Homo sapiens: one gene and its partner. The protein of the gene in region 2 interacts with the protein of the main gene of each other region in a pairwise test. Each region holds a gene or a part of one and is shown on either strand. Other genes may lie near its edges. The genes, in order: EPB41L1 and STARD13.

Evidence for each region.
Region 1: the proteins of STARD13 (region 2) and EPB41L1 interact in a two-hybrid assay, tested with the Homo sapiens proteins (one study listed by BioGRID and IntAct).

Annotation. Positions count from the first base shown.
Region 1 is NC_000020.11:36,189,010-36,192,824, reverse strand, and holds part of EPB41L1 (band 4.1-like protein 1), read right to left. Parts: intron 2,549-3,815; coding exon 2,451-2,548; intron 2,204-2,450; coding exon 2,028-2,203; intron 1-2,027. UniProt on the Homo sapiens protein: May function to confer stability and plasticity to neuronal membrane via multiple interactions, including the spectrin-actin-based cytoskeleton, integral membrane channels and membrane-associated guanylate kinases.
Region 2 is NC_000013.11:33,107,671-33,111,485, forward strand, and holds part of STARD13 (stAR-related lipid transfer protein 13), read right to left. Parts: intron 3,238-3,815; coding exon 3,016-3,237; intron 2,421-3,015; coding exon 2,203-2,420; intron 1-2,202. UniProt on the Homo sapiens protein: GTPase-activating protein for RhoA, and perhaps for Cdc42. May be involved in regulation of cytoskeletal reorganization, cell proliferation and cell motility. Acts a tumor suppressor in hepatocellular carcinoma cells.

The DNA of each region.
Region 1 (3,815 bases), on a different chromosome or scaffold from region 2:
TTCCTCCCTCCTCATGGCTACTCTACATTCTACACATGCTTTTCCCATTGCTTGAACCACAACAAATGCTTACAAACCTGCTATTCTATGAGCTCCTCAAAGGAAAGGACCAAACCTATTCACTCTAAATACTATACCCAGGACCCAACACAAGGCCTGGCACACATATAACACTCAGAAAATATAAGTAGAACTAACTTGCCTGGAGGCCTGCCCCAAGGTGTTCTGGGAGTATCCACGGTTTCCCTACCCAAGTCCCCACTTTCCACCTTTTTTTTTTTTTTTTTTTTTTTGAGACGGAGTCTTGCTCTGTCACCAGGCTAGAGTACAGTGGCGGTGCAATCTTGGCTCACTGCAACCTTCATCTCCCGGGTTCAAGTGATTCTCCTGCCTGAGCTCCCGAGTAGCTGGGACTACAGGCGCCTGCCACCATGCCTGGCTAATCTTTGTATTTTTAGTAGAGACGAGGTTTCACCATGTTGGCCAGGATGGTCTTGATCTCTGGACCTCGTGATCCACCTGCCTTGGCTTCCCGAAGTGTTGGGATTATAGGTGTGAGCCACTGTGCCTGGCCTTTTTATTTTTTATTTTTTTTATTTTTTTTGAGATGGAGTCTCGCTTTGTTGCCCAGGCTGGAATGCAATGGTGTGAGCTCACTGCAACCTCTGCCTCCCAGGTCCAAGCAATTCTCCTGTTTCAGCCTCCCGAGTAGCTGAGATTACAGGTGCATGCCACCACGCCCGGCTAATTTTTGTATTTTTAGTAGAGATGGGGTTTCATCATATTGGTCAGGCTGGTCTCGAACTCCTGACCTCAGGTGATCTGCCCGCCTTGGCCTCCCAAAGTGCTGGGATTACAGGCATGAGTCACCATGCCCAGCCCCCACTTCCCACCTTTAAGCCACTCTCTACAAACCTAAAAACAATAATGATGGGTACAATTTCTTAAGGTGCTACTATGTGCCACAGAATATTTTCTAGGCATGATCTCATTTAGTTTTCCCTAGAACACAGCAAAGTAGGTACTATGTATTTTGTAGAAGAGGAAATAGGCTCAGGGAGTTAAATAAGTTGCTTAAGGTCACCCATCCATTCATTCAGATATTTATGAACCACTTCCAGTGTCCAGAGAACAGCCCACGGTGACTGTCAAGCCGAGATTTGAACTCAGATCTGCATAATTCTGAATCTCCCCAGTGACCCATGTGACTTCCGAACATCACCTACAAACTCTAGTGTGTACATCCTGGGGAGAGACTTGGGCCCTGAAGGGTGCTGATTTAGTAGGTCTGGGGCAAAACCTGGGAATTTTCGTGCTTGCTTAACAATCTCACAGGCGACTCTGATGAAACGTGGTTTGTGCACCACATTTTAAGCCCTATCTGCTTGCTACAGGACTATATAGGGCCAGTTTTCATTGATGTTAAGGGCACCCATCAATCCAATAGAAATGGGGACAGTGGAGAGTGCCATGTGGTTAGATTGTCAATCAGCCCAGAACCTAGTAGAACCAAAAGAATGACCAAGAACGATGCCCTGGCCTCCCAGCAGATAAGGCATCATCAGCTCCACACTGCAGTCATAAGACACTATTCTCCTAGTATGATGATGACCAGTGTAAGGGACACCAGCCTGCAGCAGAGGGATGCAGGGGAGGAGGGTGAATCAGACCTGCACTGCCAGGCCCAAGGTTAGACCACAGGTTAGACTGGTGGATTGCTAAGCTTCTTGGGTAGGTGGCCCAAACCATATGGCTAAACCTGGGACCCCAAAAGACCACGACTCAGGGAAGTTGTGGGGAATCCAGAGAGTGGTAGTATCACATCTCAAGTGGGAGTGAGCTCTAGGTTGGGACTAAGCCACCAAGAGCTGCCCAGGGACAGCACTGGTCTTGAGGGGCCAGCCTGGTGCAGATGAACTTGGGATGCATCTACCATTTTCCTGCTCATTCTGCAGAACCCAGCATGCCCACTCCCCCAGTTCCCTCTGAAGACCATTCCCCGCCCAGCCCTCCAATTTGGGCCATACCTCCATCAAGGCTGCGGGACATGGTGTACCGTTTGCTGGAAGAACGCTCAAAGAAGGGTGCAGGCCGGTCAATGAGGGCGCTGGCCTGGCGAGTCTGTGCCTGGGTCCTCCCACTGTACCGGAACTTGGAGCCCATCACCAGGAAGCCCTTGGGTGGGGGCTCAGGGGACACCAGCCTGCAGCAGAGGGATGCAGGGGAGGAGGAGGAATCAGACCTGCACTGCCAGGCCCAAGGTTAGACCACAGCTGGCCTTTCATCCCACTACTCCACCAACTACAACAATTCAAAGTGGTCCAGGAAGGGAGGGACTTGGGGAAAGGGTGGAGGACTTTCCTAGAGTTCTCACTAACTCCTCCCCCTGCTCCCCTCCATACACATGGCCTCTGCCCCATCCCCATTACCCCATCCAAGGTCAGGCTCACCGGAAGAATGTATGATGCTCGATGCAGACCTTCCACAGTCTCTTGGCTGACCGGTGGTTTGGGAGCTTAAAGCCAATTGTGCTCTCAAATTGCTCATACTGGAAAACCAAAAGGGCAGGTTAGAGGCAGGGCCTGAGCTCACTCTCGCCACTAGCCCATTCTTTGTGTTTTTTATTTTATTTGTTTAATGTTTTTTTGAGACACAGGGTCTCGATCATTTGCCCAGGGTGGAGTACAGTGGCGCAATCATAGCTCACTGTAACCTTGAATTCCTGGGCTCAAGAGATCCTCCTGCCTCAGCCTCCCAAGTAGCCAGGACTACAGTCAGACGACACCACACCAGCTAATTTTTTGTAGAGAATGAGTCTCACTATGTTGCCTAGGCTGGTCTCCAACTCCTGGGCTCAAGCAGTCCTCCCACCTCAGCCTCCCAAAATGCTGGGATTACAGACGTGAGTCATTCTTTCTGAACTCTTCTCAGGCATCTGCGACTTTGGCCTGTTCATTCACTGAATCAATAAGGGTGATTGAGCCCTTACTCTGTGACGGGTCCAGTGCTAAACACTAGAGATACATGGAGACCAAGGCAGAAGATTCTAGTAGGGGAAGGGGACCTCCAATAACAAATAAGCAAACAAGATAATTGCAGACACTGATCAGGGCTACAAGGGGAATGAAGGGAGATGTGTGGTGCAGCAGAACTGGGAAGGCATAGGGGCTCCTGTCATCTAAGGAAGAGCAGGGGATCCCCTCTAGACCTAGATCTAGGTGATCTTGAGCTGACATTTGAAGAATGGGAAGGAACCAGCTATGTGAGAAGCGAGAGGGGGAGATACTTTCAGGTAAAGGAAACATCAAATGCGAAGCACTCAGGCAGGAAAGAGCTCGACTTATTCAAAGATCTCAAGGCCGAAGAGGCTAAAGCACCTTGGGCATGGGGCAGTGTGGCAAGGGATAGGTGGGAGAGGTAGGTGGCCATGGAAGGAGTTTGAAGTTTAGCTCAAGAGCTAAAGAGAGTTCCTGAAAGGTGTAAGCAAGGGTGTGGATGGGAAGGGGGAGTGGGCTTGCCATGATCTGATTTAAGGGACTTTTTAAGATCTCTCCAGCAGCTATGAGGAAAATGACCTGGAGAGCACCAGAGGCGAGGGAGAAGGCCCTCATAGGCACAGGCAAAAGATGGGGGATGCTGGAGGCGGGTGTGATGGAGAGGAAGAGAAGCAAATGGGTTCATGTTTATTCTACAGGTACAACCAAATGGGCTTTTTGATGGGTGAGATGTAGGTAATTGAAGGAAAAGAGGTGTAGACATATACATGTTTGCATTTGTGTGTGTTGTATGTATAGTCGAGTCTGTGTATCTTAAAA
Region 2 (3,815 bases):
TCTAACAATGTGCACTGTTCAGAAATGAAATGTGCTGCCCTGGGAGGCAGTGAGCTCCCTGTTCCTAGAGCTATTCAAGCAGAGGTGGCTACCCCTTGAAAAAAGGTTGTGGATGGGAGTCAGGAGCTATGAGAACATCTCTGTAACAACCTCTAACTTCCCTTTCTACCCCAGGGATCTATCATAATAGATTGCATTATTAGAATTCCCATGATTTACTCCACAAATTCTATTCCCTTACTAAGTCATGTCCTCCATGATTTCACCCTGTCCTCCTACACCAGGAAGAGAAATGGTGATATGTGCTTGACAAGAACTTGGGAATAACCAAGCCCCACACAAATGCTCAGCGACTTCCATGCTGTGACTACTCTTTTCATGAACGAAGATGTGATAAATCGTGACGACTGAAAGTTGTAGAGATTTGTTGGGATAAATGGGAGAATCTCCAGCAACTCTCAGCGGAAGCTCCCGAGGAGCTAGCAATGGGTGTGACATGAGAGACAAATGCAGCAATCCTGAAAGGTGACCAGCCTCATACATGCTAGCCTAGACTGTAAGATGCTCTGAAGACAGGAGGCATCTCAGCCCCGTGCCTCCTCACCACACTCATCACTTTCCACCTCCTTGTATCCTACACATAAGGAATTCCTGTTGTTGGGAACCAGATCTGGTTCATTGTTAGCCCGTGGAGGGCTGCACCTCTTCTCCTTCAGGGCCACATGGTCCACTCCACTTCTTCAAGTCTTGGATCAAAATCAGTGCAGCAAGACCCCGCCCTGACCATTCTATTTAAAATTCCATCCCTTACTATCTCCCTATCTTATTCCTCCCAGGATAAGTAAGCCCATCTCCCTTTCTTATTTTTTATGGACTTTCCCCAGTGAAATACAAACCCCAAGAGAGCAGGAGAGGGGTTTGCTGCATTCCCTTGGCATACCCAGAGCCTATTGCAGTGCCTGGCACGTGGTCGTGATGGAACGAAGCACTGATAAATAGCAGGCTGGTGGGGTTGCCGGATGGATGGAAGGAGGGAGGTTCTACACACAGACTCAGGCCCTCAGCCTCCTCTGGAGGGAGGGAGGAGGCACGCTATGGCATGGCCCCATTCCTATGGCAGCCATCCTGCAACAGCTATTCAACTTTCCACTTGTGGAGTGAAAGCATGAAGTTTAATTCCACCAGATGACTAATGTCCTAATAACTTTGGTAATATGCCACCCTTATAAACTGCCTGCATTCTCCAGCAGGATCCCAAGGAAGCAGAGATAAATACATATATTTAGGGAAAATTGACCTTTAAAAGTCAAGGTTCCATGGGCCAATTCCCAAGTCATAAAGAGCTCATGTGAAAAGTAACCTTTAGTTTGCCATCAAAACTGGTTTCATAAAGAAAGCGTTTTAAATATACATTTGGGAGTTTCACAATAGGTTCCTTTTACACTGCTGATCTGTGACATGAGACAAGGCTTGCCAAGATTTTCAATAAAAAAGGATATATTGATCTAATTACCTTCTATTCAGGTTCTTTAGCACCCTCAATTTCTGTTCTGGCTGATGCAACACTGCATCTCTACTGTGCAAACTTTCTATCATTGGTTGAGCATCCCCTTCCAAACCCCAAGAACAGGGGTCTGGAACTCAACCCTTACATCAATCAGAAGAAATATTTCCTTGGCAGACACAGAATCAACAAGATTTTCTGGACCTCCAGGGCAGTGCCAAGGTTTCTGAGCATAGTAATAGCTATGAGCATCTGAAGTTATACAGATGAGTTCTGAAGTCAAACCTACTCCAGTCTTGAGAGTTACACACACTTTCCCAGGGGAGAAAAACAAAATCAGAAGAAAAGCCAGTCAGATCCATTTGCATAATTTGGCAGAAAGTGCAACCGGACAAACAGCAGCTTTTCTGGGCCGTCTGCTCTGAGGAAATGAATAATATTTATGGCCTAATAAACTGTGTGCTCCACAAGGAGAGGGGCAATCAGAGAGCCCAGGCAGAGCTGTAGGCTGGGTGAAAAGACACAGGAAGTCGGGCATCGACACAGAAAACTCAGATGTCACTGAGGGAAACAAGAGCCGGCTTAGTGTTCCCCGTGGAGGCTGGACTTTGGTGGGAGACACCAGGAGAAGTGCTCACATCTACAGTTCGCGTCCTGCCTTTGGAACAGAACATCATAAACCCTAGAGTCAGGCTCACCTGAGAACCACAAAGTCTCTGGAAGGATGGGGAGCCATGCTGTTCAGCACATACTGGTAGATCTCTGTTTGCCTGTCTAGAGTTTCCACAACCTTCCACTGCACAAAGTCCTCGTCCCACAGGTGGCGCTCTCTCAGCACGCGGTTCAGGACCACTGAGGGGGGTGCTTCCACCTCCACAGAAGCCTTCCACAGCTTCAGCGGGTTCCCGTCGCCCACCTTGGGAAAGACAACGTCAGAAGCTGAAGAGGTTGTCTGGGATATGGGTCCAACATTTTTTGTTTGGGCTTTTAGTTTTGCTATCATACCTTGCTGGGTGTTCAAAAACCATCACTGATTATGTAAATTGAGAGTGATACTACATACCTCAGCTGTAACATTTTAGTCCTTAAGCTTAAAAGAATAATAATGATGATAAAAATAATAATCACCAACACACCTAGTGGTTACTGTGTGCCAGGAACTATTCTAAGCCATTTGGTTTGTAAATTAGCCTTCCTCCGACAGTGGTACTCTTACAATGTCCATTTTGCAAATGGGAAAACTGAGGCACAGAGAGGTGTGTGACTTGCCCAACATCACACAGCTACGGGGGAGAGACAGGACCGGGATCCAGCTGTCCGGCTCCATAGTTTACTCTCTGATTATAGGCAACAGATCTCTGGACTGAGTTCTTTGAATGGTTCATGTGCCTTAACTGTCCGCGTGTGTGCCAAGCCCTGTGGACACAGCAGCTGTTTTCAATGCAAAAACAAATGTCTGATTGTTAGCTGTGGCTTTCTGGGGGTGATCTTTTTCCATCCTCTGAGATTACCTTTTTGAAAGCAAGATCTGTATTGTCCGTGCTGGAGCACGTGACCCATCCTTTGAACTTCTCCTTGGCTTCTTTCTGGAGGCCCTGGATGAGATGGTTCAGGTAAGTGTGGAAAGTTGCCCCACTCTCCTCCAGCTGTGTCCCCAATTCTTCCAGGGTTGGCACGTGGATCTCAGCCTCCACATACGAGTTACGAGACTGGGCCACCAACTCGTGTGGAACCTAGACCAACGGATGCATGAAAGGGCAACACACTGAGCCAAAGAAACGCCGAGACTCAAAGAAAGCAAAGCCATTTCACCCACAACCCGGCTCTGAGCCACGGGCCGAGGGCCACACGGCCAGAGATGTTTTTCTAAGATCATTGCCAAGGCCGGGAGGGGCCTTCCTAAAGTCAGGAAATACAAACATGTTTCTGAGGCTGTATTTATTATTCAAAACATTGCAATGACTTCCCCTTTATTATTTTCACTTCCCTTTTATTTTACCTTTACTGTCTTTTTATTCAGTTTGGCAAAATATGGGCTCAGACAACTTTACCCACTATGAATAAGACTTAAAACAGACAGACTTGTGAAGGGAAACATCAAACATGACTTGGGAATAGCTTTACTTTTTTAGCACACTTTTCCCATTGACAAATGCCAATTCTATCACAAAAGTATGCCACAAGTCTGGTTCACTTACTTCTTTTACATATCTGTGGCTGTATTCATAAGCTGTCATTGGTTCTTAGCAACAAAGATTCCTCAGTATCATACACACACTCACACAGATGTTTAACCTAATCAAGCTCCAAG